5 separate regions of the Homo sapiens genome follow, and regions 1, 3, 4 and 5 are each linked to region 2. Evidence: fine-mapped expression QTL. A gene starts in region 2. Each other region holds a variant in brackets. All regions are shown on one strand. Distances are from middle to middle.

What was found. PIP is the estimated chance that this variant, and not a neighbour inherited with it, causes the effect. A credible set is the group of variants that fine-mapping cannot tell apart.
Region 1: its variant is the best candidate, but not a certain one, in a credible set for the expression of MAST4 in Th1 cells (Schmiedel 2018, PIP 0.55).
Region 3: its variant is the best candidate, but not a certain one, in a credible set for the expression of MAST4 in blood mononuclear cells (TOPMed, PIP 0.86).
Region 4: its variant is the best candidate, but not a certain one, in a credible set for the expression of MAST4 in blood mononuclear cells (TOPMed, PIP 0.54).
Region 5: its variant is the best candidate, but not a certain one, in a credible set for the expression of MAST4 in NK cells (Schmiedel 2018, PIP 0.57).

The regions. Positions count from the first base shown.
Region 1 is chr5:67,035,395-67,041,556 of GRCh38, forward strand. All of the region lies in intron 4 of MAST4 (microtubule associated serine/threonine kinase family member 4), which reads left to right. Among named protein-coding and RNA genes, the nearest start is that of MAST4-AS1, 34 kb to the left of the region's middle. The variant A/AT (reference allele first, on the strand shown) is at 2,476.
Region 2 is chr5:66,593,574-66,599,735 of GRCh38, forward strand. MAST4 (microtubule associated serine/threonine kinase family member 4) reads left to right here and starts at 2,820. Exons shown (of 29, transcript NM_001164664.2): 1 at 2,820-3,445. The coding sequence starts at 3,083. RefSeq lists silencers at 2,456-2,655, 3,266-3,405, 3,416-3,565.
Region 3 is chr5:67,026,948-67,033,109 of GRCh38, forward strand. All of the region lies in intron 4 of MAST4 (microtubule associated serine/threonine kinase family member 4), which reads left to right. Among named protein-coding and RNA genes, the nearest start is that of MAST4-AS1, 26 kb to the left of the region's middle. The variant T/G (reference allele first, on the strand shown) is at 3,226.
Region 4 is chr5:67,048,758-67,054,919 of GRCh38, forward strand. MAST4 (microtubule associated serine/threonine kinase family member 4) reads left to right here. Exons shown (of 29, transcript NM_001164664.2): 5 at 5,647-5,735. Among named protein-coding and RNA genes, the nearest start is that of MAST4-AS1, 48 kb to the left of the region's middle. The variant T/G (reference allele first, on the strand shown) is at 3,405.
Region 5 is chr5:66,993,852-67,000,013 of GRCh38, forward strand. The region is part of intron 4 of MAST4 (microtubule associated serine/threonine kinase family member 4); the gene reads left to right. Among named protein-coding and RNA genes, the nearest start is that of MAST4-AS1, 7.2 kb to the right of the region's middle. The variant C/CT (reference allele first, on the strand shown) is at 3,582.

The DNA.
Region 1 (6,162 bases), 440 kb after region 2:
CTGAGAAAGACAGTTTGCTGGTATTGTGGGTTGTCATTGAGTAAGTTAGGGCTGGCTGGTACTTCTCAAGCAAGCGGGATCTACTATGTCAAGTTTTCTACTGTAGCTGCTTGATGTAACCTTTATGATGTGGTCAAGTGACACAGAAACCAGGAATCACTTCCTACTCATCAGAGTTACTTATTGTCCAAGCCCACATGGAGTGATGTTGCCTGTTTTAAACTGGGATGTGGTCCTCCTTGATGCCGGTGGTGGGCAGGAACATCCGTAACTGGCACTTACACAGTAAGCCTGGCTTCCTTTCTTCACTGTGTGTTGCTCACCTCTATCCCCAAGCCACACAATGCCCACCATGGAGCCTGTCATCTTCCACCCCTTGGAGTCCGTCAGTGGAAAGGAGTAACAGGTTTTTGTTACTCACATGGTTAGCTACATGATCAGACACTACTGCATTTAAATCGTGTCTAGGGTACTTATAACACCTAATACAATGTAAATGCTATGGGGAGGCCAGACACCACTGCCTCCCTCATTCCCTACCCCAGTCTCAGGAAAGCAGACCCCTCTAGGCTTGAGAAGCTTACCCATTGCACTCCCTGTGGGAGTGTCTCAGGAAAGAGCCTGGGTTGGGACTTGCTTTTAGCATGCTTCCCAACATCCATTCCCTTTCCTGGGACCAAAACGCATTAAATACCCTTCAAGGCCCAGGAGGCCAGACTCTGAATACAAAGACTTGGTATAGAGGAAGGAAAAAATACTTTTCATTCTCTTCCTGCAGAAAGAATACCACAAATTAGTATCTCAATAAAGTATCCTGTTACAGGACCCATTGCCCACCCTCTCTAGCTTCTGCCTTTCTGCTTAGAAATTGTGGCTAGCAATATTTAAAAGGACATCAGCTTTTCTTTGTAAAACTCACATTTTCCAGGTTAAGAGGTTAAAATATTCATGATTAAAAATTTTTGAAAGCTAGAGTACAAGCATACCTACATTCATACTCCCATATTCCTGCCACTGAGAAGTAATCACTATTATGATTTATGTACATTTTCTTCCTATTCATCTTCTTTGCATTCTCTATGCAGTAGTCCCTCAGTGTCCCGAGGAGTTGGTTCCAGGACCTCCCTTGGAAACCAAAATCTGAGGATGTTCAAAATCTGATATAAGATGACATAGTATTTGTATATAACCTACCCATATCCTCCTATATACTTTAAATCATCTGTAGGGTTCCTATAACACCTAATGTGATGTAAATACTGTGTAAATAGATCTTATACCGTATTGTATAGGGAATAATGACAAGAAAAAAATTGTATGTGTTCAGTACAGATGCAATTTTTTTCACCAAGTATTTTCTGTCTGAATTTGTTTGAATCCATGAATGCATAACTCACGGATACAGAGACTGATGTTTAATATCAGTCTTTGGATGCTATATATTTTCTCTTATGTCTTTGTAAGCATTTTTGGAGTAATCCCATCTTGTGGTGATAGTATAGCTTGACTACATTTTATTCAGGGTTTTTAGGAGAAAGAGACTAATCATTTGTCCCTCACTGTCTTTTGTTCATTGTCATCCCAGAAAAAGGCCAAAAAGAAATGTATGTATAGGGGAGATTTGTTGTTAATTGGCTTGATTAGAAACAAAAACCTGCCACATAAAAGAGGTCGTTAATTCCAGGGTGGTTGTTGAGTGGTCTCCAGTAAAAAGGAAAGGTCGGGTGCAGTGGCTTAAGCTTGTAATCCCAGCACTTTGGGAGGCTGAGGTAGGAGAATCACTTGAGCCCAGGTGTTCAAGACCATCCAGGCAACATAGCAAGACCCCATCTCCATAAAATAAAAAGAAGAAACGAGAAAGTTAGTGGCTAAGCAGAGAGGTGATTGTTGAGGGTTCCAGCTTCCCAGTTCTTGGAGGGCAAGCCTGTTCTGTGTCAGGCTTAGTCCTTGTTCTCTTTTGAAATGCCCTCTTTTCCCTCTAGACTTTGTCATCATTTGATTTTAGGCTGGTGTGACTCAGACAGAACTGGATCTGTATTATGGAGTAGAGTATTAAAAATACATAGCTCATTTAGTACATAAAAAGCATTTGGAGGACAGAAGAAGCAAAAAATGAGCTATCCTAAGAAACATTGTCAACCCTATTTCTATTCCTGGATCTTATCAATTTTTAATAAAACATTTAAAAAATATCAGGGAAGCAGTTTTCTTCATTTCTATACAAATTGATTAACTCTTTCTCCTGGATGAGCTAGAGATTAATCTTTTTGAGGTAAAATCATCTCTTAGAAGAGAGAGTAGAAAACTAATCAATGTTCTTTCTCTAAGAGGAAGTTTTAACAGTTGAAAAATGACCCATCTCTGATTCAAGGCTTTGACAACAAGAGCCAGGAGAATTTGGGAGATAGAGTTATCATTTATAATTAATATATCATTAATTCTTTCTAACTATGATGCTAGACTCATTGCCCAGGG[A/AT]TTTTTTTTTCTTTTTTAAAACTAGAACACAAACATTAATTGTTCGTTCTTCTGGTGTTTGCCTGATACAATAATCCAAAAAAAAATTTCATAAGTGGAATTATGTTTTGTTTAACAATATATTATGGACACATTAAATAATCTTCCTAGAGACCTCTTGCATCCACCTTTTTCATATTTCTTAATGATAAAAAGAAATTTGCTTCTTTGTTAAATATCTTCTCTTTCCACAGCATTTATTTCAGAAAACACCTTAACCTATGATGGGAACACTTTGTCTACCTGGCTATTGAAATCTTTCTCTAACAGTTGCAATTCTAGTTTAGATGATTTTATATGCTGCTTTATCTTTATTTTTGCCTTTAGTTTCTCTTTTTTTTTTTTTTTAACACAGATTTTGTCAAATCTTAGGTAGACTGATTTTTATTATTTATTTTTGTCCTCCCAGTTATACAAAGTCACTTAACTGAACAATGGATCTATTTAATAATGCAAGGAAAAGTCACCCTCCCTAGACTTCCTGATTACAAACTCCTTGTAAGCACTTGTCTTGGGCCCTGGTACCAGTCCTCTGCATGGGGCAAGATACTCTAAAAACTGTTAGGGGATTTTTGGTGGAGTAACGTGGCTACTTACACATCAGAAAAACAAGTTACCTTAAAACAAGAAAACCAAATTGATGATGGTGTTGATGGAGTGGAGTGGAAGTTAACTTTGTCCTGTGAAACTGTTTATCACCAAGTGCTAGTCTTCAATTTGTAGAAAGACAGCATAACCTCATGCTTACCACTCATCTCCCTTCTTATACATTATTTTAAAATATTGACACATTTAGATACAAAAATAGGTGCTCATGTGATTTTTTTTAAAAAATAAAATGAAAATGATTTCTTATTATTTGAAATACATAGCATCAAATTTTTGGTGTACTGTCCAGGAGGCAAGCTAATAGTACAATGTGGTTTTGCTCCTTACCATATACTTTTGTGAGTTCAGAAAACATTGCAGCCTTTTGTAATAAATAGTCACTGAAGCTAGTATCTTAAGACCCAGGGCTCTGGAGAGAGATCTTTAATTTAAGGACATAGAAAACACTGTTTCTTTTATGTAAACGAGCTCCACAATTTTATGATTATACTTGAATGGAAATATGTTATGACCACAAAGCCAAAGGAATGACTCACTTGGTAGCTATCGACAGGTTTTATTTTCAAGATGGATTTAACTGCATTGTTGTTTTCAGATGTATTTTACCCTTTCAATAGGATTTAGGGTCTATTTAGAAAAATAATAAGTGGAAGTAAGCAATAGAAGAGTTCATGTTTATTTCTTTCATAGTACCGTTGATTTCTTTTCAGTAAGTTGAGGCATCCTAATTCTGGTCTTGATATGCAGTTTAATTTCATGTGGGTGAATTATTCACAATCCCTTTCAATATGGAAAGTTGACACAGTAGGGTGCCATCTGTCTATACCATTGAATTTCTGCTTAGCAGTACTTCCATGTGAAGGTCAGGGATTCCATAGCTTTCATAAGCAGGAATCCAGGGACACAGTGAACAGGAACTCTCTGAGTCACTGCAGGGAATGCAGAATGAGTTTAGGTTGGGTGTCTGGTGAATATGGTGAGGAGGAATTGATGTGTTATCCTGGAGCTTGGAGTACTTACTGATAAGGACCAAATCTCAGGCTAGGGACGAATGAGTTCCTCTCATTAAACAGAAGGCTGGACCTGTGAGAAACAAGTGTTCGTACCTATAAGAGGCAGGCAGGAGATCTGAAAGTGACTGAAACCACAGTTAAACTTTTCCTCATTAACTGAAGCACTGTGTCTCATCCCATCTCCTGCCATAGTTTTAATCTAATCCACACAATTTAGTGAGGCCTCTTTCTACACACAGATCCCTCTCCTGTCTGCTTTCTTAGAGTCTAGGGAGTTCTTGGAGGATAGTAATGGTGGAAGATACCAGACTAAAGGAATAACATCTTGAAAGAATAAGTGCAACAGAAGAATCTACAATTTGGGGTTACAAGGCTATAAGATTTGTAAATATAAGATTTTTTACTGTTGAGTTTGCTTTATTTTGAGATTTTATATATATATATATATATGTGTGTGTATATATATATAATATAAACTTATCTCACTAATGCAGTCAGTGTATCTTATTCTGATTTGCTGGCCAAATTTGCTTTCTGACGCATGTTACAATGTGGGCATTAATTCTTCTTTTCCCCAAAGCCAGTGCTATACAAGGATGCTTCATATCACAAATCTGATTTCTGGGTTCTCTTGAACACTGAGAGTGAGTTATCTAGAAATAAGAAACCAGAAAAGTCATATAAAAAGAGGCATGATCCAGAAATATGGATTTGATTTTGAAATCCACTAAAAAACAATAGAACAAAAAAAAATCTGCTGCATGCATAAACACAGTTCTCTCCAGAGAGCTGTGTCTGGCTAGATCTGTTGGTTTGGGCAGGCATAAGGAAGGAAGTGCCTGGTTGACCTGGGTAATTCATATGTTGGATCATCTACCTATGGATCTTTGAGAATACACTGTGGAGGAAGGAGCGTCTATATCGTGTCCACATCCCACCTGTCTACCATGAGCCTGAAAAATCTGTACACAAGTGTATCCTGGGATAAAACTCATGCCCCACTTGGTGATACTGGACTGTCTGTCCACCAGGGTCAGACTTACTGCCTCCGGAAAAACCTCACAATCTGATGTAAAGCTCCATAGCTTGAACTATCTCTTGTACCTGACCCTCATGCTACAGACTCAAAAGTCTGGTTTGGTTGGTATCCTAAGTACCAGCTCCATCTCTTAGCTGTGGATTCCTAGTTACCAAGCTCATGTGATTTCTATGTATGACCAGAATGGTGAGATATTAATTTATAAGTGTACATATAATCATTATTGGGCCTAGGCCCTTCAAAGGTCTTATTCTCTGCTTTGTAGACAGTCTAGCAAGATTGTTAAAAACACAGGTTCTGAAGGCAGACTGCCTGGGTTTAGATCCCGGTTCTCCCACTTACTAGTTCTGTGATCTTGGACAAGTTACTGAACTTCTCAGTTCTTCAATTTTCACATCTATAAAGATGTGGATAAAAATAAGTCCTACCTTATAGGATTGTCATGAAAATTAAACCATTGCTTGGAGTGTGTTAAACGCTTTGTCAGTGTTAGCAGTTATTATTATTATTTTTAATCACTTTTGGGCAGACCTCTCCATGAAGCTAATAAGAAGGTTGTCTGGGGACCATGGTAGCAGAGCAAGATTGGGCTGATGTGCACGGTTTTGACAGTTGTTCCAAAGCACTGAAGTCTGTTGAGTGCAGTCCCTTGCATGTTGCTCCACCTTGATGTTGACAATTAGAAGCCATTGGCCAGTGTTTGAGTGGATACTTTGAACTTGTGGTTCTGAAGCTTTTGTTTTTCTGTGTTTCTGAAACCCACCAATTATACTTCTTACTGGTACCTTCTTTCTATAACTAGGATAATGTTTACATTTACCATCAAGCCTTGCTGCCCTAGAACTAACCTCTTGTATGAAAACGAATATGCCTGAGAGAATGTATACCAGGGATAAAGACCAAATATTTTATTTTATTCTTTTTTCTTCCACAACATCAAGTACTCTAGAATTATTTTGATGGCCAAGATTTATAAAGCACTTGCTG
Region 2 (6,162 bases):
TACACTTTTAAACTGCAAGTTTTGAAGTAGAGTTTGAAATCTATTTAGTGGACTACAACTAGCATCTTTATTTTTAATAAAATATAAATTTCAGGGTGCATTGCTTAAAGGATGGGTAAGTATTGTCTCATGACATTTTATTTGTATTTGTACATATGCATATGTGTCATGAGTTCCAGTGTGAAATATATTTCTTATTTGAGGTTCAGGTTTAAAAAGTTCAAGAAATACTGATCTAGTACTTGACTTTGATCTGTAGAGGTTAAGAGCACAAATGCTGGGACCAAATGTTCAAATCTGAATCCTGGGTCCATCATTTGCTAGCTGTGTGACTTTAGCTGAATTACTTAACTTCTCTGTCATAGTTTTCACATATTTCACAAATATGATATGAGAATAGTAATAGTAGCTACCTCATTGGGCTGGTATGAGAATTGAGTATATTAACATTTTAAAGTGCTTAAAATCCTGCCTGGCACATAGTAAGTACCTTAAAAATGTTTGTGGGAAAAACAAATATGTTCCTCAAGTATTTTCTTTTACAGATTGAATCAATACAGCAAAGTTTCTTCCCTATGGATATTTATAATATGGTATATATATATATTTGAAAAAGCTGTCTGTTTTGAGTGGCATTGTATTAATACTAGAATGCCTAGGAAAGACAGCCTTGGAATCAGGTTGCTGGGTTCCAAACCACAGCTCCACTGCTTACTTGCTGTGTGACCTTTGCAGATCCTCAGTTTCTTAATCAATAAAGTGGGACTAATAGAATCTGTTTCACAAGGTTGTTGCCAGGATTAAATGAGACCATCCAGAGAAGATGCAGAGGACTCAGGCGATAATAACTATTGTCATTCTTGCTGTCGGTTATTCAGACCATGACCTTGCTTCTTATTTCCCTATGTACTGAAAAGCAACTCCTCCTCTTCTTTTATGTGCATGGCTGAAATTGTCATTTCAGTTCAGCTCTGGTGAATCAACCACGTAGGGGCTCAGATAAAGACCAGAACTCCTAAATAGGAAAGTAATTGTGAGGCCCGGGTTAAATTCGGACTGCCCCACTGTGCTCTCTCTTTAGCCTTGCTCTCACAACTTAGCTGCCACTAGACTTGACCTTTTGCCTCAGCAGGTCTTCATATCCCTGTGAATAATTCAGAAGCGTCACAATGAAAGCCTGACAACCGGAGTCCATTTTGCAGTATGGCTGTCTGAAGCAAGATAGACAAAACGTATTTCCTTCCCCTTCATCTTGAGGGGAGGAAACTGATCAGGACAAAGGTTGCTGTCCAATATGATGAAGCCCTCTGTGTGATGTATCACTTGTAAATACCATGATAGCATGAAAGGCTCATTAGCTGAAGGGGCTTTCAATTAGGGTCCTCCAGTTTTTAAGGACCTTTGGCAAGGCTGCTCTGACAAAGAGAAATCTAAGATGCTCAAGGACCTGCTACTGTTTTTCTGTAACTCTTTCCTCTTCTCCCTCACACATTTTTCCTGTATCACTTATCACAGCTTCTAAAATGGATAAGGGAGCTATATTATGCAGTATCAATCTCTCGCTTGACCATAAGCTGCTCAAGGGCAGGGGACCTGACTTATTAATCTTTGTATCCCCTGCACCTGGCACACATCTCCATCAACGTACATGGAACTGAGGCGGTTGAATTTACATCCCAGGTCACTGTGCCAGAGCTCAGAATGGGACTAGAGCTGAAGGCAAGAGAGGAATCATTTATTTCCCACTGCTGAGCTGAGTGCTGGCTTCCAAGGAAATTCCAGTCACCGGACAGGCAGCATCCTCCAGCCCCAGGGAAGGACTTAAGGGTACTCTATTGGTACCTTTAGTGAAAGTTCTTTCTCCTAGTTCTTAGAGGTAAGGAAAATGAAGCAACCTGTCCTGTATCCTGTTGGTTTACAACCCAGGGCTAGGAGAATGTACATTGGAAAGTGAATCCTTTTCATCCTCTGCTTAGCTGATCATACCGAGACAGACAATTTGAGTAGGACTACAGAGCTTGGTCCTAATTAAATACAAGGACATACTTTTTTATCTTCCTCCCTATCAAAAGGTTCAAGTCTCAGACTTAACTTTTTAGTTTACAAACAGAAATAAAGACAGGAAATAGTCTTTTAAAAACGCTCCGTGTATCCAAGCCAGGCACTTTGCTGATGCATTATATATATTTGCTCTAAGCCTGCCAAGACCAGTAGTAATGTAGCCATTTACAGTTGAGGAAACTGAGGCCCAAAGAGCTTAAACGGAAAAGCAGAGATTAGAGGTCACTCCCCTTTGGGTCCGCTCACTATACCACGAAGTTTCTGTCCTTTTCCTCCAACACGCTGGTGAGTCCGTGTGCGTGGGTGACTGTGTGTGTGTGGTTCCTTTTTTCCCTATAGAGCCCTCCTTCTTGTCCGTTTTCTTGATTCCACTTTTTGGAGACAAAGTCCAGTTCTTCTCCAAGGTCTCACCATCCGCTCGCCGTCTCCCTCTGACGTCCCAAGGACGGTCAGCCACTCCCCCGCTAAGTTCGGAGTCTCAGCCCTTGGCTCCGATTCTGGGCTCCGCCCCCACCCTCCGGGGACCCCCGCCTGGTCCCTGTCCCCTGCGCCCAGGCGCTCCAGCGGGACCACGGCCCGCGCCCGGGCCCCGCCTCCCCTACCTGAGGCCCTCATGGCCGGAGGCGTCGCAGCCTCCGCCCACCAGCGCGCCTGCCCTGCCATTGGCTCTGCGGGCTGCCCGTCTCCTTGCTCCGTCCCGGAGGCAGGTTTTGCAAGGAGAAGCCGCAGTACCCGCGGCTCGGGTGCAGCGCGGGAGCACAGTGGAGCGCAGATCGCGGACCCGAGCGGGCATGTCCCCGCGCGCGGGAGCCTCCGTTTGCGGCCGGGCCCGGGCGGCTGTGAACTTAGCAGCGGGCTCCTGCGGCCCCGTCACTGCCATGTAGTCGCTGGCGGGGCTCCCTGCAGCCCGGGAGCGGCAGTGCCAGTGAGCCTGAGCCCAGGAGCCCGCGTCTTCCCCGGGAGGCGCTGAGTGCGCGCCGCGCCCCCGCCGCTCGGGAGGCACTTTGGGCCAGACAGGGAAATGGGGGAGAAAGTTTCGGAGGCGCCAGAGCCGGTGCCCCGCGGCTGCAGTGGCCACGGCAGCCGGACTCCAGCCTCTGCGCTGGTCGCCGCGTCCTCTCCGGGTGCTTCCTCGGCCGAGTCCTCCTCGGGCTCAGAAACTCTGTCGGAGGAAGGGGAGCCCGGCGGCTTCTCCAGAGAGCATCAGCCGCCGCCGCCGCCGCCGTTGGGAGGCACCCTGGGCGCCCGGGCGCCCGCCGCGTGGGCTCCGGCAAGCGTGCTGCTGGAGCGCGGAGTCCTTGCGCTGCCGCCGCCGCTTCCCGGAGGAGCTGTGCCGCCCGCGCCCCGGGGCAGCAGCGCGTCCCAGGAGGAGCAGGACGAGGAGGTGGGCCTTTCCCCAGCTTGCCCACTCTGGGTTCCGGCAGCCGGGCGACCGTAGTTTCCCATCCTGCGCACAGGCAGTGGGCAGGAGAGCGCTGTGGCCTGGAGATAGGGAGGGACCCCAAGCGCTCTGCCCCGAGCACGGGACAACGATAGTTAGGAGCCCCCCTGTGGGTTATTGACTTCCCTGTGGCTGTTACCCCCGTGTGTGTGTCTCAGTGTGCTGCCTGATGGTGTGTTTTTAAAATGTCAGAGAAGCAAACTCCTTCGTGTTTGTATCTGACTTGGTTGATCTGTGAAAGGATGCGATCTGGACATCTGGCGTGTCCCCACAACTCACCTCTGATTCTCCAAAGTGGGCGTTGTTTCCCACCGAAGCGCTTGGGCCGAGGGGCAGGGAGTTGAGGGGGAGAAATGGTGCCTTGGGGGTAAGAGGCAGGAGTAGGGTGGGGGGCAGCGGTAGCCGCGGAGTTGCCTGCGGAGGTTTCAGTGGCGCCAGCCCCCTGGGATCGCCCGCGGGTGGTTTTGGCGCGTCCCCGCAGCGTCGGTCCTCTGGGAGAAGAGGACTCCCCGCGCTCCCTCGGTGGCGCTGGCGTGCGCGCCTGCAGCTCCCGTTCAGACTTGTTTCCAGCTTGTCCAGATGAACGCTTGTCACCAAACCGAGTACAGATCGTCTTACCTTTTGCGGGGCGGAGCGGGGTGGGGGATCTGTATCTGCCCAGTTTCCTGGAAGGATGTTCCTCCAGAACTTGTGGGTCGCTTCCTGACACACTGAGCATAGGACTCTGGTGTCCTTCTGGCTGCTCTGTCCGGCTTATTTTCTGCTTTTGGAGGACAGTTAAAGAAGTGTACAATTCTTCACGTCTCAGAGCCAGACTCAGTTTAAAAAAAAAAAAGATTGTTTGCTTTGGACGTTTCTTGTGGGGAAGTCATCTTGATCAGGCAGGGCCACAAATAAAACATCACCTTAACATAGACTTATTGTGAAATTAATTCCTGAGTGCCAGTGTTGTATTTTCCTCATCTTGGATGGGGTTAGCTTTAGTAAATAATTGCCTTTGTCCCTTAGAGTAAGCAATCAGAGGCCCCCAGCCTGGAAGCAAAAACTGGATGTGGCACAAGGTTGAGAGGAGGCGAGTCCTAGCTTGGCAGAGATGGAACAAGCCTTAGCTGCTTAGCTGGTTCTTGGCCAAGCCACTTGCAGTAACCATGACCCATTCCCTAATTCCCCTAAGCCCCCATTGCAAGGATCCTGGATAAGGGTCTGGAGGCCTGCTTTCTAGAACTGCCTCTGCTACTGAGTGGTGAGACCTTGGGTATATCATTTCACTCCTCTGAGGTTCAGTTCCATAATCTGTAAAAGGAGGAGCTTCAAGGTAAATTTCATTTTCACTCTCATACTCCTGTTTCGAATCAGGAATTTCAGATGAATCCATAGCTCCAAATCGATCCTAGCGGCGGGATGTCAGGAGTTTGCTGAGTTCCTCACCCACCGCAGAGCTACATCCTAGCGGAGATGATCAAACCCTGTACTGCCCCAGCCTTCCTCGCTGATTACATCTCCCTTTCAAGGTGCGGGGCATGTGCCACGTGTTTGCCCCTTAACTTCTGCCTCCACTTCTACAGATGAGCACACTGGCATTGGGAAGCTGGGGGTGTACCCTAACTTAATGATTCACCAATAGTTCCTAATTTAGTATTGCCGCTGGTGGAGAGTAGTTAGTTGCTTTATGTTTTCTATTTAGCTAGGAGGGTGCTCCATGGTAAGTGACATGGTCTTGCAGGTGGTGGGGAGGGATGTTGTCGGGGAACTTCTGATCCCCATTCTGTCGCTGATTTATTGCCTGGCCTCAGGGTGACAGTGCTTTGCTTTGTTGGAAGTGGATATAATGATAACTTATTTCACAGGCAATGCAGTGAGAACTGGTTGATTGAAACACATTTTGGAAAGTGGAATGATTAAATAACATGGGTCACTATTTGTGAAATCTCAGAATTGCGTGTAAACTGATACAGTATTGCAATTTATTATGTAACTTAACCTGCGGCATGGGATGCTGGAAATTTCCCAGGAGCAAAATCTTGACTTGCTCTGAGAATTTTAAAGTGAAACGAAAACCAAACCATGTAGTTTTTTCCCCTCTTATGGAGTAGAGGAGTGATAATCTTTGTGAAAGGGGTTGAAGTCCAGTGTGCATTTTCTGGTTCTTACACTGGTGATGGTATGGGGCAGGGGGGTGTTCACCTTCACTGTTTGTGGGGTTGTGGGCCTCTTTAAGGAGCAAATGAAACCTCTTTTGCCCCTCTCCTCAAAAAGCACACCAGAGGATTCGGGAATGCTGGGTGATAAACACTCATTTTAGTGGAAAGACGTGGGTTTGATTTCTAGCTCTGCCACCTTGACCAGTTGTGGGATTGTGGACCATTCAACTTCTGCAAATCTCAGCTTTCCTACCTTTAATGGGAATAATAGCATTAGAGTTAGGCATTTTACACATGCTATCTAATTTAATCCTAGCACAGTAGCTAACATATAGCATCAAATGCCAAGTAAGTGTAAGTAAATATTAATTTTTTAAGGTCACTTTTGATGACATTTTGCAAAATAGGAATACAAAGTTGGGTTGTCCTGTTATTTTATTGCTGCATAACTTATATGCTACCTACTGTCAGAGAATCGGAGGCTATGTCTACTTAGCTTATACTCATAAAATGGGAATA
Region 3 (6,162 bases), 430 kb after region 2:
TTACCTTTATTTGTAAAAATCCAAATATATCATGTTAAATATGGAAGGTAGGATATAATATATCCTATTTTTAATGATTTTACATAAGATTATTATCTTCAAGAACACATGTTTATATAATTATTGTAAAATATCAGAGTTATTGCTACAAAATATGTAAGGATATTTATCTACATTTTTAATGATACAATTCAGAGAATTAGTGTAGAAGACAGCAGTTTTATACTTTAATGTTGTACTAAGAAAGGTGATTTGAGTGCTGTTTGTATTTATTGGCAGTACTGAATTCACTGAAATATATAATTATTACAAAAAGAAAATAAACTGTATCTGTCTTGACCAAGAGTTCATACAGATGTTTTTTATTCTCATCAGATTCCCAACTATGCTGTGGAAGCAAAGTTGAATCTAGCCAAGTACCATATCTCTGTATGCACTCACAGATGAACGTAAATACACGTTGTGCACATAAGGATCTGGAGGGCTAATGATACCTCCTGGTACAACTGCAAAAAGAAACATAGTTTAGTGATGGAGTCTTAGACATGGTTCCTGAATGCACAGTTGATTCTAACCATAGAACTGCATCAAAGATGGCAGAGCTTCCTTCTAGTTTTCTTCTGATAATTCCAAATATAAACTTTACCTGTCAGAGTAAAAAGTAGAAGCTGTGCATTTTATAAGAATAAGCCTTTTCACCATAAGGGTTTTCAGTCTAAAAACATGTTTGTGGATTGTTAATGAATAGAGTTGGATGAAGAAGGAATTTTTTGACTTCTAGTCTGTATTAAGCAATTCAGATATGAAATATCCTTACTTCCTGGAAGCTACTCTTTAGGATAGGATCTGTTGTTATAACCACCTCTAAGTTTAAGATATGCAGAGGAGATTTCACTTGGAGATGAAGCTTGGAATTTGGAGCTGAGTGTAGTTGACTCTCCATCCTCTGCATTTATTTGTTCATTAATTCAGTAATATCAGTTGAGCACCTTCCATGTGTTAGGGATTGTGCTGGAGAGGCAGTGGTGAAGGAGACAGATGAGTCTCTACCTTCTTGAACGCTTGCAGCTTTATGGGAAATGCTGTGGAGTTGGGTGTAGAGACAGGAAAACACAAAGAAGTAACAGAATTTACAGTATCATGTGTGAGTATATGTCTGTCTTACTCCTTCTTAGCCATGCATGGTGGGGATTATAGTGAACTTTGAGGGCATCCAGGAGACACACAACAAAAAAGTGGGCTGTGAAAGAAGTAAACAACCTTGATGGGTGAGAGATCATTGAAATGTGGAAGACTGTAATCTAGGCAAAACAACAACAACAACAATACAAAACAAATAGCTATCGTACAGAGACTCGAGTGAGAGTTGAGGAGCAATTCCATTAGAGTGGCAAACAGGAAATGTACTCTGAGGGTAGGAGGTGCCACTGAAGGGTTTTGTACAGGACAATAAGATCACATTTGCCTGTAGGAAAGATTCCTAGCAATGAGGGATTGAACTGGAGTTGTGCAAAAAGGATTCCAGGATCTGAGTTAGAGCAAGCATCACGGGCTTCTGGGGCAGATGGTGATGATGCCACAAGCAGGCTGGTGACCGTGAGAATGAAGGGAGACGCTCAGGAAGTGGATTCTGAAAGACTGGATGACTAACTGAGTGATTAGAGTGAAGAAGAACTAAAGTGGAGGTTGTGCTCATAGTTCTGCTTTAGCCTGTTAGACAATGGTACCAATTACTGAAATTGGGAACACAGAAGCAAGACACGTTGGATGAAGATGATATCTTCAGTTTGGGATTCATTGGACTGGAGCTTCTATAGACACACCCAAGTGGAGATGCTGGATATGTGGATCTGGATGGAAGGCAAGAGAGTTCCAGATTGGGGATTAAGAGTCATCCACCGCCGGGCATGGTGACTTATGCCTGTAATCCCAGCACATTAGGAGGCCCAAGTGGGTGAATCGCTTAAGCCAAGGAGTTCAAGACCAGCCTGGGCAACATGGCAAAACCCCATCTCTACAAAAATAAAAGATAAATAAATTCGCTAGGCATGGTGTCATGTGCCTGTAGTGCCAGCTACCTGAGATGCTGAAGTGAGAAGATCACTTGAGCCTGGGAGGTTGAGACTACAGGCAGCCATGATCACGTAACTACACCCAGCCTGGGCGACAGCACGAGACACTCTCTCAAAAAAAAAAAAGTCATATACATAAAGATTAATGAAGAGTGCCAAAGGTAATTAGTGTTGAATATTTATTTTCCAGCAGCTTCAAGTATTTATGGTCTGCTTAGACCCAGGTCAGAGTCTAAGGTTTCTGGCCCTCTGCATTCCCAAGAGAAATGGAGGTGGGGATGGGGAGACAATTTGTACATGATTTTAAAAGTGTTTTCTAGGAAAGACAAGCCATAGAGCCATCCTTATACTTATGTTTCCCATAGGCATATATGTTTTGTTTTACTTTGGAGTAATATTCGGGATGTAAACATCTTTGCTTGTAGGAGGATCAGATACCTACTGAAATGTCATCAAACTGCTAGCATGTTTCTTTTAGTTAAGTATATTGAGGGACCTTACCATTCTGTGTATTTCATCTCTAAGAAAAAGGAAATTAGGCTGGAGAGGTTTGAAAGAAATTGAGCAGGAAATTGGGGTTGCAAAATTCTATGGCAAGGTGATGGTGTGTTTTGATTGTTGGGTTTTGTTTGTTTATTTTTTGATAAGAACAAAAAGTGTTTGCTACTTAGAAAACCTTTATTGGCAGCATGATTTCTGTGTCCATGAAGAATGAAAGTGAGGTGGATGGAATAGTAGGAGTTTTAGAAGGAAAGTACATTTCCTCATGTGAAAAAGGTAGGAGAAAGGAAAATATAAATTCATTGCTGTTGACTTTATAATTTGATATTAACAACATTATTGAAATTGCTGTGGACTTGAAGTTTGTCCTGTTTACGAGTTTGCACAAAGTTAATCCTAATTATTCTGAAACTAAGACTTATATATTATTTTTATACATTTGAATTTCTCTAAATTATATACTTAAATTTTGTTTAATGAAATTTTTTCAATTAAATAAAAATGTATGTTTAAGGTTGAAATTTACTAGTATTTCACATGATTCCTTGTTAAGTGTTATATATATTTAGGAGCATCTAGGAAATTGTAAAACCAAATTTCAAATTAAATGTGTATTTTTATTATCTAAATATTTTGTATACATATGGGTCAT[T/G]CACATCCTTATAGGTTTTTATTTAACAAATCATTTCTCAGGGCAATACAACATAAAGGCTCTATAGTTAATTTAGTAATAGCATGGTGTGATACCTGTATTCCGTATCTCTTTTGTTTTATAGTGTTACAAGCAATATTTGATGGTTTAGGGTTGTTTTCTTTTTAAACTTTGGCTTGAACCAGGTTAGCACTGAATGAGAGCTCTGAGATGACCATCTGATGTTTATTAGATAGCTGTGGTAAAATGACATAATCATCATTTTGGTTTTGAAGAGGTAACCATAGCACTGGTGGCAAAAATAGATCATCTGAGTGACATTTTAACTCAGAAAATAAATACCTTTTCATTTCTGTACATCACCATTCCAGAGCAGGCCTGGGGCAAATTGGTCAGAGTCCTAAGGGGTGATATTTAAAATAAGATCTGTTTTGTATTAGTAATGAGGTTGTGGTTTTAAGCCCTTCCATTCTGTTGTGTAGTTTCAAGGGAGTTTAGTTTAAAACATTAAAACCATACAAACATTGTATATTTGGAACACCTAACCTCTTCTAAGTGTTCTGTACCTCAGCACTTTTTTTATCTTGGGTGTTTGTGTCACTCTCTTACAACGTCTACTTTTATAAAGCCTTGGGTATCTCAAACGCTATGTTTTTATTTAGTATTTTAGTGCAATAGAACATTGTGCTAAAGAGGCCAAGGTCATGGGTGTTGATTCTATGCCAATTAACTGTTATGGTGAAATTTTTTTCCTGTAGCTTTGGCTGGTATTTCAGAAGTTGCTAGAATTTGACTACTTTTGTTTAAAGTGTGGATAATGCTGCCTAACTCATTAACTGTCCTGTAAAAAGTAAAATTGATGTCTATTGGGGATAACACTTCCACATAGGATATTTTTTTCCTATGTGAAAAAAGCATTTACTTTCATCTGTGGATGATCTCTGACTAGACTAAAATGTATGCGTTTATTAAATAGATTAATATCAGTTCCTGGTGGGTGGAGATTATCAGTCTTTAAATTGCTACTCTTTGCTGCTTTCCTCTGCATAGATACAGAGAATCTGTCAGCTCCCTGGCTAGTCCAGCAGAAAGCCCTGGGCATTTCCCAGAGTTGATGGCAGAGGAGGGTCGTCTCTTGTCGCCTTTTTAGCCTGATTTATTGCCCTTGAATTTTTTAATAAGGACATATTTTAAGTTCTGTCTAGGGACTGAGGGCTTGGATCATTCATGCAGTGAACTTTGAATAAGTTGGAAAGATTGGCTGGGCCCTGTTATCATAATGGATGGTGACTATTTGACATTTACAGTGGTATGCTCCATTTGCACTAAAATAAATGAATTTGTATTTAGACATGATTTGCAAAATTTTTCCCTATCACACTTAAAGTAGAGGTTATTTGCATTCAAAGTTAAACACTGAAAAACTGCGTACAGACTTAGTGAAGATTTGTAAAATACATGTTAATTGGCATAACACCATTAAACCTGATTGTGCTGATCTGTTAGCTGGAGAAAGAGCAGGAATCATCTTGTTCCCATATCCCTACAATCTAAATTGTTAGAGTTTCTAAAGATGGGGGACTTCTCTGAAGTGAATATTCCTGTCAGGCCTGTTGACCTTACTGCCTAGTGACCTATTCATAGGTCAGGATGGCAGTTCTCCCTGCTGGGTCAGTTTTTATTCCACCTTCTTTCGTGAGAGAACTAATTTGTACAGCTCTTACAGGTGGAGAACTAGATCACTGGTGTCCTTTACTGCCTCTGATATATGTGGAAATGAATCAGTGGAAAATTCAGTTACTCATCGTGACCTACTTCTGTCACTTGCGTTGAAGGGGTGCTTATTTGTCAAAAGCAATCTGCCCCCCTTCCAAAAACTCTTGCTCCATGGCTGCTTTAACTCATTTAATCTATAGATTCTTTCAGAATGTTTGCAGTTGCCTAAATCTTTCTGTGAATTATCCTGCTGTACCTGTAATCCATTTTAGATTAAGCCTCTGGAGGCCAATGAAAAAATCTGACTTTGTTACCTCTCAGCACAGCCTGACCCACAATCTCTGCTTTCTAATGAAGATTCCAGGATCTTTAGGAGAAACTGTAAAATGGAAACTTCCACTAATTTGAGAAGGGGGAGATTTAAGAAAGGTTGGGTTTTATTATGACTAAACTTCCCCACCCACGTTTTTTGCAAAATTTATCTTTTCTCATTTTTATTGGCTTATTCTTTCAAAATATTCATTTATTCAGCAAGGTTTAATTAAGCATGCCTCTGTGCCAGGTATTGCATTAGGGTCACAGAAAGAACAAGATACATGCTTGTCTGCAGTGCCTAGTAGGAGAGCTATAAGGTATCATGTTAGAATAAATAAGACCGGTTTTAAACGCCATTTTTATTTTGGGGGAGGGCAGAATTATTTTACATCAAGAACAAAATAAGGGTTACTTCTTACCTGACTTGATGATTTTTCAGCAGCATAGTCTGGTCTGTCTGGATCAGTGGTTTACCTATTTCATATGGTCACATGTGTCAGTATGTACAATGATTATTTACCATAGACTTTTAGGTAAATGATGAGAGGATTATTGAGAACAACAGAATTCAAAACCCTTGAAAAAGAAAATGATGTGTATCTATATTTTAAGCAGAAATACACAAACACACTTATAGTAACTACAAATAACATCTAGTAGCTCAGACCTATTGCCATTTATTTCATGTTCAATATTGTACAGACAACAAACTATGAAAAGTGATGTACCATATTTATATGTATACAGGTGAATTTCAATCCAACACTAAGATAATTACTTTATGTTGTAGAATCATATATAAATACTTTTTGCCCTGTTCTAACCATGCTTACGAAGACTTTCAGATTAAGAATGAATGGTCATACTTAAAATAAATAGAAACTAGTATTTGATGAGGAGAATGGC
Region 4 (6,162 bases), 460 kb after region 2:
GTTTTTAAATCACCTAGTCAATAGAAAAACAATGTGTATACCTTTACAGAATCAAATAATTCCCAGGGATCGTCTGCTATACAAAGCCCAACAAGCCACTAAAAGGTAACTGTTAATTTCTTTTGTACAATTTCAAGTCTCTGTTTTTCCTGTTATGTGATACTACTAGTGAAAAGTGGAAGCACACACATATAGTGTGGTTATACATATAGCATATATATATATATATGTATATATATATATACACACACATATATATATATACGTATATATATATATATATACGTGTATATATATATATACGTATATATATATATATATACACTACCATACCAAGAATGAATGGGCAAGCTGCAAGCCCCAGTTCTTTCAGTAGTTGCCTTTTGGGGACTGGAATATGTTATTGGCTTGGACTTCAGAGAGTACATTTTGTTCTCTTTCTAGTTTCTATATCTTTTTTAAAGATTGGAAACAAATAGCACAAATGATACAGTTGCTTGTTCCAGTGTGGTAGGATTTGTTGGATTATTTTTCTATTAAAATTTTTGAGACCAAAAAAAGTAAGTTTATGAATATTTATCTCATCTGTTTCAATCCCTTCATTGTGAAGAAATGGAGACAGAAAGCTGCTTAGTTCATAACATTTATGCAGCATTACCACATTAGCTAGACAATTTCTGCCTCCTGGTCATGCCCTATTTCTTCCACTTCAGCCTTCTTCTTTAAGAAATATTCAAATGTTCATCTTCTCTAAAGGTGTGAGGAAATAGTTAGCAGATGTTCATGGACAGTAAAGCTTTGGTCTATGATGGGTCTCCTGTGCAAATTTATCAAATTTTCATTAGGACGATGTAATAATTCTAGCTTTCCAGAATTACCGGGGCCCCTCTTACTCAATTCACTATATTATTACTGCCCCTCAATGGTGGTTAGTCTTATTTTTTACTGAATGTTGACCTTTCAAGTCAGCTGTCAATGTAAAAATCACTGCCTGTCGGGGTTTCCTCTCTTCATTTTTCTTGCCATGGTCAGAAATGATCAGAATTTATGTCTCAAAGTGAATGTAATTTAAAATTAAGTTGGATTTCAGCTACTCAGAGTAATTGGAAAAGGCCACAGCCTGGTGGGCTTCACAGCTTTCAGAGACCTGGTAGGGGATGGCTAACAGGTTCTTCTGCCAGGAGACAAGTGGCAGACCCAGGTGTGAAACTTTTACAGGTCCCACCAAGCCTTTCTTATGGAGCACAGAGCATAAGGACAACTTCTGCAGAAATGGAATGGGGTACTTGGAACCAAAAATACATACACCTCCTTTCCCACCTGCCTCCAGCTTAGTAGCCCATAGTCCTCTTTGTCCCTCACACTGAGCCAGGCCTGACTTAGATGATGAAATGCATGGCCTGTCTCTTCACCTTCTTAGCAAATGGGAGGTGCTGTTGGCAGTAATTAAGAAATTGAGAAGCTCCTTGTGAAACTGTTTTCGCGATGGTAATAGTGAACTCAGGGAGCAGGTGTGGTGCCTCTTTCAGTCCTCATTTCACCTGCCTGAGCAAAAACCATGCAGACAAAACACTTCCTGGTGGTGACCTCATGTCACTCCAAAGCATCTCCACCCAAGCACCTGTTCAGCTGTGACATTCTTACACGCAGTGTTCTGTCCATGCCTGCTCACCTCCTGCCCCTCAGGGGCAGCCAGTCCTCCCTCAAGGTCCTATCATCAGAACATCTTTTCCCCTTCCCATTCTTCTCGGATTCTGTAGTCAGCAAGGTGCATTTCTTGTGCTCTGTGTCTAAGTTATCTTTCTGTGTCTCATAGTTGCCCCTAGGAGGAGCTTCCCAAGGAGGTACCAGATAAATGAAGTAAAAATAAATGCTTGTGATCATCAGCTCCTGTCCTAATCCATTGTTTATGCCATTGTCTCAAGTTGTTATATGACTGTCTTCTCAGCCTAAATTCTGAATTTGCAAGTAGTGACTCTGTGCCATTGTGTTAATAGAACAATAGTTGTCACTTTCCAAATTCAGAGAACAAACTGTGCAACTCACCCACAGGAAAGTAAGTTTTTCCATGTGCTGCTTCAACTGGAGAACTGATAGAGGGTACTTTGTGGGAAGTGGTTAGTCTCATGTTGGGCTTTCACGTCGGAGCATGGGCATGGTGAATGGCTTCTAGCTGTTGAAGAATGAAGTCAAAAGAATGTATTTGGGGATGGAATAGCTGCAATTTGAGTTCATAACTTTTCTTTAGTTTCATTTTTGCGGTCATGTCCCTGTATCCCTGAGGATGAAAACTGGAGATAACTCTTTACAAGCTCAAATGCTTAGATAAGGGTGAGTTATAAAAAAGATATTTCTGCTACAGGAGAAGTAGTATTCATGTTTAATCTGGTCGGACATCACCTGTTTTTCCCTTGGGTGACTTTGCTTGAAAAAAAAAAAACAAGGCAGAATTGACTTAGTTGTGCTGGTGAAAAGGAAGGAGCCTTTAATTTGCCTGAGTGGAGATGTTTCCACTGTTTTATCATTTAATGGGTTAAATGAGTAGGTGTGGCCATGAACACCTGGAGAGACTGCCTGACGTGCAGGTGCCATAAACTTCTGCTTTCATGGGCAGGAAAGTGTGTGATACCTGGAGGACAGAGGTCAGCTCAGCATTTTGCACCAATGTTATTATTAATGTGGGCATTGCCAGGTGCTGTGGCAACCTGGGTGACAGATGCAGTTCTAACCCACTTGAAGTTTTCTTACTGTTGGAGTTAAGTGCAGATTTTAATTCATTTATTGGGAATCAGGTACTTAGAGTAATAAGATTAGGTGACTGTCAGATATCCCAGAAGCAGGTAATACTGAGATTGGATGACTCTTCCTTCCTGTACCCTGGAAAGGTTTTCTACAGAATATCTCAGTAGGGTCCTAGGATTTTAAAAGTATTTAGATATATATATCAAGATATAGGTATTTGGGAATGAAATGCTGTGTAAAGTGTCCCTCTACCCTTGAAAATTTTAGCAACAAATTCATTCATAAGGCGAAGACCCCATTTCATAAGTATACAGATTTATTTCATGTACATATGGAAATATATCAGCCTATATTATATAAACACTGGCTTTGCTACTTTGGGATCATTTGATGTTTAAAAGTTTTCTATTTCATTGTTGAGAGAGATCCCAGAAAGTTCCAAGTCTGTTGTAATTTTAATATCATCTCTAGCTTCATGTTGAAAGGAAAAAAGATTAGAGGAGACACTTTCAGTGATGAATTATGCTTTGATTATTCATGGCATTTGTCAATAAGATATACCTTCGATAATTTGTTTTGTGTAACATACTACCCATACCTTAAATATGGTAAACTGTTCAAATTCTGAGGTAATTTGTTTTTAACTTCTCTTCTTTTAACTT[T/G]CTCATGTATTCATAGATGAAATAGCCTGTTTTCTTTCACTCTACATTGCATTCATAATGAATCATCTATTTATAAAGATTAGAAATCTGTATAGAGGAGTAGATGCACCCAGGATGACTGTAATGTAAATCTGTTTGTATATTGACCAAACAAGTATATTTTATTTGGGGGTTTTATTTAGACATTTCTTTTTGATATTTTTTTTGAATCACATTTTTGAAATCACTTTTCTACCCCTTTTTGATAGATTTTAAATAACTAATGGAATTGTGAGGGTTTGTTGTTCATGTTTTCATTTTTTAAAAAATCTAAATTGTTCATTGTTTTGCCTATTGTGGTAGTGTATGTACCTTAGTATGTATGGTAGTGTACGTTTCTTAGAAATTTTTTAAGTTTTTCTTAAATAACATTTTCTAAATTTAGTTTTAAGTATATCAGCATATTTCACTGATATATCTAGTTAAGATATTCATTAGATTATTTGCATTGACAGACATTTCTTATGAATTTTATTTATGCATATAAACAATAAATATGTTGAAAAGATCTTTATGCATGATGTAGATCAAATGCTAAACACGAAAAAATGTAGCCATTTTTATAATAACCTGAACTTCAGTTAATTTGCTGAAAGAAGTTTGCTGACATTTCCAGGACATAAATCTGTCATTTATAATTTCTTCTATTAACATCAGCAAGTTAATATATTTAATATTTCTGTATTGGAATGAAAGAAGACATTAATTTGAATTAACACTGAATACATTATACAGTATCTTTTAAAACCAATCAGACTGTCTGATTTAATGATTGTGAATTTAATAGGTTGAATACATACATTTCTTGATAGATGAGTTGATAATATCCAACCCACCTTCATAATTAAATATCAAAAGTCTATTCTTATTAACAACTGCTTTAAGGCTGAGTAAACATGAGCTTAATTAAACTCACAGATAATACTAGGGGATGCTGATTGCTGCACTAAGGAAAATAAAGTGATGCAGCCTGACCTTAAGAAATTATAAATATGGGACTGTTGACAAATGATAATAAGCAGCAAACATCTAAGAGAAGATAACTCCCAAGTCTGTATTGCTGAAAGAAATTGGGTTTGGTTTTGAAATGTATTATTTGAATATTTAGAAATGTTATCTCACTGTACCTAAATTAGAAGTCCAGTGAAAATTCCTGTTTCAGGAATCTGGTATAACAGAGTTCTGTCCTGCACTAAGAAGGCATTGCAATAAACTCCTAATGGTGGTTGAGGGCAGCACAGTGTAGGAGGATAGAAGCACAGAGCCCTGAGCCTTGTTATAGGTGAATTAAATGAGGTAACTTGCTGGGTTTTACCACCCTCCTCTGACTACTGTATTGCTAATAGAGAATGAAGTGCCAGTCTATTTTGAAGAAAAGCAAATGAAAATAAGATAATATCCACTTCACCCATCCGCCAGTTTTGTATTTGTCTTATTCTTTAAGGCTTTTGAAAGTTACTTTGAAATCAAATTAGCCATTTTATAACTTCCTTCTAGCAGAAACAGGAACAAATTGTTGCCCTGTGCCCATGTGTAGTAATTTATTTCTATGCTCTGGGTACTCAGGATAAAACCAGTAGCTAGCATGCTTGTGAAAGAGGACCATCACTATTATTTTAATACACTGGGATCTGATTTTATGATTCCAGAACATTTACCTTAATAAAGAATTGAATGCCATATACAAGATGAAAAATGAATGAGTGGTGAGACACATTTATCTTAGGCATCAGCTATTCTATTGACAAAAGGCACAAATAAGAAATTTGTCTAAATAATTAGATTTTTAATTAGTGCGTCATTATAAGATTAATGTCACTGCACTTCATTGCATGTAATTTTGTATTAGAAATTTTGTGTCAACAAAGATGCTACCTGTGGTTTGCTGATTTGAATCCTTAATTTATCACTTGTGTGTATGGCATGTTACATATTTGCACTCAAGCGCTGGAAGAAGGCATTTGATTATTGCTCCACTGGTGGTGAGGAATATTGATGGTGTTGTGCTATATGAATACATTATATTTTCTAATATTCAAGAGGTAGCCACCCCTCAAATATTAGTGAATGCATAATTGTAATAATTTTAACAATAACATGAGCAGATAGGTTGCTCAACCTGGTCCATGTCTACCGGGAACATGGTTGAACATTATTGATGCTATATTCTTTTTAAACTTTGTTTTTTCTTTCTTTTTGATAGTTGCCGAACAAGCAACCGGAAAAGCTTAATAGGCAATGGGCAGTCACCAGCATTGCCTCGACCACACTCACCTCTCTCTGCTCATGCAGGTAATTGGTTACCATTTCTTGAGTTTTGTTTTATTTCTTTATTTGTTGGTTTTTTAAAATAATTAATGCATTTTGATATTTGGTATGTCTTCACATGTTATCTTTGTTTTCCTGCTGTTTTATCCCTAAGTTGTTCTTTGCGATATGTTAGCCCAGATCTTATCCTCTCTGTTTCAGTGTTTGGACTCTAAAATACAGAATTCCTTTTTATATGGGGTCTCTTTTTAATTATTTCTTTCTCCATTTCTAAATGCCTGGATGATACAAGACATGGTTTCCATGTTAGGAATATCCTTGGGAAATGTAAACATGATAACTCATATGAAAAGTACTAATGTTAAGAACTGTTCAGCATATTTCTCCCTAAAATTGAACTTGTCTAATACATTGTGATGGTCATTTTAGGGACAGTGAAGATTTAAGAGAG
Region 5 (6,162 bases), 400 kb after region 2:
ACATTTTAGTAGAATGCAGATTTCTGGGCTGTACTTCCAGAATTATAGAATCAATGGGTGTGCAGAAGACCCCCCCCCCCACCCCACCAAATCTGCATTTCTAACAAGCACTCCAGATGATTCAATGATGATAAGACAGAAACCATGTGTGGAGAAATACTGCTGTAGAACAATGGGGACCCATTCAACTTTGTTTCATGGGAGAGTGATATGACTGCGTGCACCTGTTTGAGCTGAGCAGTTTTGGAAGAATGGTTTCACATTGACAGTGAGGAGCACCAAGAGGAAGGAACGGTACCGCATTAATCTACACAAGAGATCGTGGAAGCCATGACCAGGGTCATGGCAAGTGAGGAGAAGACATGAAAATCTATTGTTCCTTTATCATTTTATACAGAGTGAAAACTTTTACCCAATTTTCTTTTATTTTCCAATTTTCCAATCTGGTGTATTTTTCAGCCACTTTTAAATGGGATTTGCTTTTCTTTTCAGTTTTCTATTGCTGCTGTTTACATGTCCTCTGGCCTTGTTTTTCTTTCTCCTTCGTATATTAGCATTCTTAATAATTCTGTACGTACTTCATTTCCTAAAAGCTACTTATAAAGACAATTCTTGTTTCACATTCATTCATTTGTCACTCACCTGTCACTATATTGAGTAACTTGACTGGCTGTTGTTCTCATTCCTATTAACTGGAGTAACTTCTCTTTGAAAGTTTTTTGATCACCAGGAACTTTAATATGGTTGTCTTCTATAACATGTATGACAGTACATTGAATACAAGAATATTTCTATGGTTGGCAGCAGAAACGTCGTCTTTACCTTTCAGTACTCTCAGTCTAACTATATACAGACAGTTTAAACTGAATTACCTAGTCTCATGGGAAATAACAAGTTAGGGTGTTTTGGAGAAAGGAGGAAGTAATCCCAAATTATAGCTATTTAATTCTTTGAAATGAAGAGCATTATTTTTATTATATTCATGTCTAGATAATGTTAAAAGTAAGTTTGCTTCTCAAGAGTTCATGTTTTTTTTGAGCAGTGAAAGAAAGCTTTTTCATTGTACAACATGACAGAGGGAAGCAGGTCTGGAATTCAAAACTGTTCACATAAATGCACAGCCTCACCAATCTGCAAATAATGACACATATATTCAAACAAAAGCAAAGCACTGCATGGATTTAAAGCCCAGTCGGCTTTGAAAATACCCGTTTGCCCAGTTGCCATAGACAAGGTAGTAAGGATTTATATCTAGAAATCAGAGATATTTTTCATTTTTATATTATAGAATTCCTGAGAGTAGGAAAGACTTCTTTTTAAAAGCAATTTTAGTATTTATTTCCAAGACTCATAGAGCTTTTATTAATGCATATGCATTATTTCGTGTGTCAAAAAATATCAATCAAATTTTATTAAAATACCAGAGTAAAAGTGTGTATTGTTTTCTTAAGTTTGTAAACTCTTCAAAGTATTCTAAAATTCTCAGGAACTTGAACTTTCAGGTCATGATAATAGGACTGTCAAATGTGTGGCTCCTGGAAATCAGAAATTTTTTTGTCTGTTTGTTTTTGAGACAGAGTCTCACTCTGTCTCCCAGGTTGGAGTGCAGTGGTGTGATCTTTGCTCACTGCAAAATCCACCTCCGGTTTCAAGTGATTCTCCTGCCTCAGCCTTCCAAGTAGCTGGGACTATCGGCACCCGCCACCATACCCAGCTAATTTTTGTATTTTTAGTAGAGACGGGGTTTCACCATGTTGGCCAGGATGGTCTCAATCTCTTGACCTTTTGATCCACCTGCCTCGGCCTCCCAAAGTGCTGGGATTACAGGCGTGAGCCACCATGCCCAGACGAAAATTTTTTAAATTTAAAACAACCTAGGCATAGCACAGTGGCTCATATGTGTAATCCCAACACTTTGGGAGGCTGAGACAGGAGGATCACATGAGCCCTGGAGTTGGAGGTTGCAGTGAGCCATGATTTCACCACTATACTCCAGCCTGAGAGACAGCAAGATGCTCTCTCAAAACACACTCACATACACACACACACACACACACACACAAACTTGTAAAAAAACATGAGAAGTATAAAAGAGGATAAATCATAATTCTGTACTGACAGATGTTCATTAAAAATACTTTGTTGGCCAGGCATGGTGGCTCACGCCTATAATCCCAACACTTTGGGAGGCTGCGGTGGGTGGATTGCCTAAGGTCAGGAGTTTGAGACCAGCCTGGCCAACATAGTGAAATCCTGTCTCTACTAAAAATACACAAAATTAGCTGCGCATGGTGGCAGGCACGTGTAATCCCGGCTACTCGGGAGGCTGAGGCAGGAGAGTTGCTTGAACCCCGGAGGCAGAGGTTGCAGTGAGTCGAGATCGTGCCATTGCACTCCAGCCTGGGCAACAAGAGTGAAACTCCATCTCAAAAAAATATATATATATATACTTTGTTGATTTCCATCGTTTTTATTCGTATATAACCATATATATAATATCTTAATGTAGATCATAGAACTTCATTTTTTTCTGATTTTAAAATATTACTTCAGGAGCATTTCCCATTTATTACATATTTTTTAAAAATATCATTGTTTTAGTTTCTTCTGGTTACTATAACAAATTATAACAAACTAGCTTAAAACTAGCTTATATTTATTTATTCTCTTAGAATTTTAAAGGTCAGAAGTCCGAAATCAATTTCTGTGCGCTGAAATCAAGGTGTCGGCTGGGCTGAGCTCCCTCTAGAAGCGCTGAGGTGGAATCTGTTTCCCTGCCTTCTCCAGCTCCTAGAGCTGCATTCCTTGCAGTTTTTTGGCTCTTGTCCCCTTCCTCCATCTTCAGGCCCAGCAGCCTAGCATCTCATTTCAGTGCCACATTGCTGCCTTCTTCAAGTATCCCTCTGCCTCACTTTCATAGAGACACTTGTGATTATATTTAAGGCCCACCTGGATAACCTAGGACCAACTCCTCATCTCAAGATTCTTAATTACATCTGCAAAACTCTTCTTGCTATATAAGGTAACATATTCACAGGTTCCAGAGATTAGAACCTGGATATCTTTGGAATCTATTATTCAGCCTACTGTAATTCTAATTCTTTACTGGTTTTCTAAAATTCTATTTTGTGGCTGTTTTAGGATGTATTAACAATTGCCCTCATCTTGTACCTTTGGCTTTTTCCCAACATTATGCTATTATAAGCAATTCTGAGATTAATTTCCATATCCACAAATCTGTGTGCATACTTGATTGTATCTTTTGTATAAATATTGCATATTAAATTATAATTCAAATATATCTATGTATATATTATATGTACATGTATATATGGACACATACATTTATATATGTGTTTGGACATGTACACATATGTGCCTACTACATGTATATATATGTATGTGACCATATATGGGTCTATGTATGTATATGTTTTCCTTCTCCAAATTGCCTTCCAGAAAGTTAGTAGAGAGTACTTATCTTCCCCATGTCCTTACCAACATTGAGTATTATCTTTTTTTAATCTTTACCAGTGAAACAGGTAAATTGATACCTAATTAATGTGTTTTTTTTCTTTTCT[C/CT]TTTTTTTTTTTTTTTTGAGATAGAGTTTCACTCTATTGCCCAGGCTGGAGTGCAGTGGCATGATCTCGGCTCACTGCAACCTCCATCTCTGGGGTTCAAGCAATTCTCCTGTCTCAGCCTCCCAACTAGCTGGGATTACAGGCACCTGCCACCATGCCCAGCTAATTTTTTGTATTTTTAGTAGAGACGGGGTTTCGCCACGTTGGCCAGGCTGGTTTTGAACTCCTGACCTCAGGTGCACCACCTGCCTCCCAAAGTGCTGGGATTATAGGTGTGAGCCACCATGCCCAGCCTGATTGATGTTTTAATTACATTTTATGATAACTAGTAAGAGTTAACACTTGTCATGCCTGACATTATATTTATACCCCTATGAATTAACGTTTCTTTTAAACTTTTTGTTGGTATAGAAGTGATATAACTTAATAGAACTCCTTGACTAAATAACTTCATGTCCTCCCTGACATATCTTCCGATGTGTGGAATAATTGGAATTGATCTTAGCAATGGAAGGAAATTCCGATTGTTACAGAAGCATGTGATTTCTACCTCTGTATATGCTCCCTGTTTGGTACTTTGATGAAAACTCATACTTCTCATTTTAATGGCATAATTTTCCATAACTTTAGATGTATGACCTGGAAAAAATATTCAAGAAAAGAAGAACGGATAAATTAACCTTAATCTTAAATTACAGAAAGGTCTTAGTGTCAGCTACGAAAGGGCTAAATATAACCATGCTGACCCACTTAAACCAAATTGACACTTCTTATAATTGCACTATAATTCATGCTCAAGAGCTGTATAAGAAATGATGCACCTTAGACCCAAGTTTCTGGATCAAGAAGCACCTTGTCCTTGAAGTTAATTCCAGATTGAGCATCTAATGCAATGATTAGTAGCCATGGTTCACTGTTACCATCAAAAAGAATTTAGCACTTCATACACAACTAGTTGTATATTTATACTTAAACGCAATTCGTTACCTATCATGGTCTCTGTTGAGATTTTGAAATTTGAAACAGTAGACCTGCCTAATAGGTACAGCTTATATAGATAATGGAATGGACTCATGGACCCATGAAACTGAAATTGAAATAGACAGGAAAAGGTTTTTAAAACACATATAGGGTCAGTCTTTAAAATATTAGGCAGGTAGCCCTAACTTTGTTATCACACATCTTTCTAACCTGTAGCAAATCCATCCTCAATCTCTTCTTTCCCCTGCCCACCCCTTCACCCCCAATCCTTTCTCTATTGTTCCCTTTCTCCCTTTGCTTAATATTCATCCCAATGGTGGTAGTGATGGTTTAAAGATGAGGGGATAAAGCCCCTGCCCTCAAGGAGCTCTTACTCTAATAGGGACTGATAATGTGCACAAAATGATTTGGATTTTGATACAGTGGAAGAACCCTTTCATGCAGGAGCTCTCAGGAGCACAGCCCAGTAGAGGGATATCTAATTCATTGGGGATGGGGGGCTCCCATGAAGGCTGCCTAAAGTGACAACAAGGTTGGTCTTAAAACAAGATAGGAGTTAGGTTTTCTGTTTGCCGGGTGATGCATTGATCTCCAAGTGTTGCTGTCTACTTCATAATTGGATTACTGGCTTGGGTGGAGGCCAGTGCTCCACGTGGTTTATTGATGGATCTTCCAGACAGCTGTTTTAGAATGGAGAGATACACTCATCTCTGGATCTTGCCCAGTAGTCTCCTTCTTTTGCATGACCCCTTCATCCCTGTAAGGATGCCATGTGTTTTCTGGCAGTGTGTCCAGCTGTTCTCCCACGGGGTGGAACTCTGTTGGGACTAAGCTATGGGGCTTCTCCCAGGAACTTCCCCTGCTTGAAAGTCAGAAGGTAGAGTGCTGGAGTGTGCTTGCAAGACATGATTCTGCACCTTCTCCAGTCCTATGGGCTGTGTGCCATATATGTATTCTACTCTAATTATCAATCATACATATCAAGGAGTCACTCACTGCCTTGGGAGATAAGTGCTTCATTTCCCATATCTATGCACTGTCTTCTCTTATATTTTGTTAGCTTATAGGTTATCTGCTAATCTTTTCCGTGTCTCTGATTCTCCTGGGATCCAGAGAATGCCTGAGAAAGACCTTGCATTCTCTTCCCATTCTGGCCAGTCTTTAGCATGTCCTTTACTTGCTTCAGACTGTATCCTTTACACTACCTTCGGAGATTGTGTAGTTCTTTGCTCAACCCATCAGGAAATAGAATTCTTATTTTGTTTCCTTTGTTTTGGGTTTTTTTTTTCCTTTTCCTTTTTTGCTTCCAGGATAATGTTTCTTTCATTTTACTCATTCACTTTAAAAATCTGAACCTCTCTTACCTTGTGGCATTATTTTAAAATATTTTTTGGTATTTTCCAGGATGATACAACCTTGCCTATTATCTGTCTTAGTTTTCAGCATTCAGGCCTATCCCTACAAGTTAATTGTTGTCTATCTTTTTATCTTTCTCCATATTTTAGCATTGTGAGTGCAAATTTGTTTAATAATATTAGAAACGCTTTCTTCAACCTGTTCCTCATTGATGTAACTTTCTTCCCATTTCTGTCCCAGTATT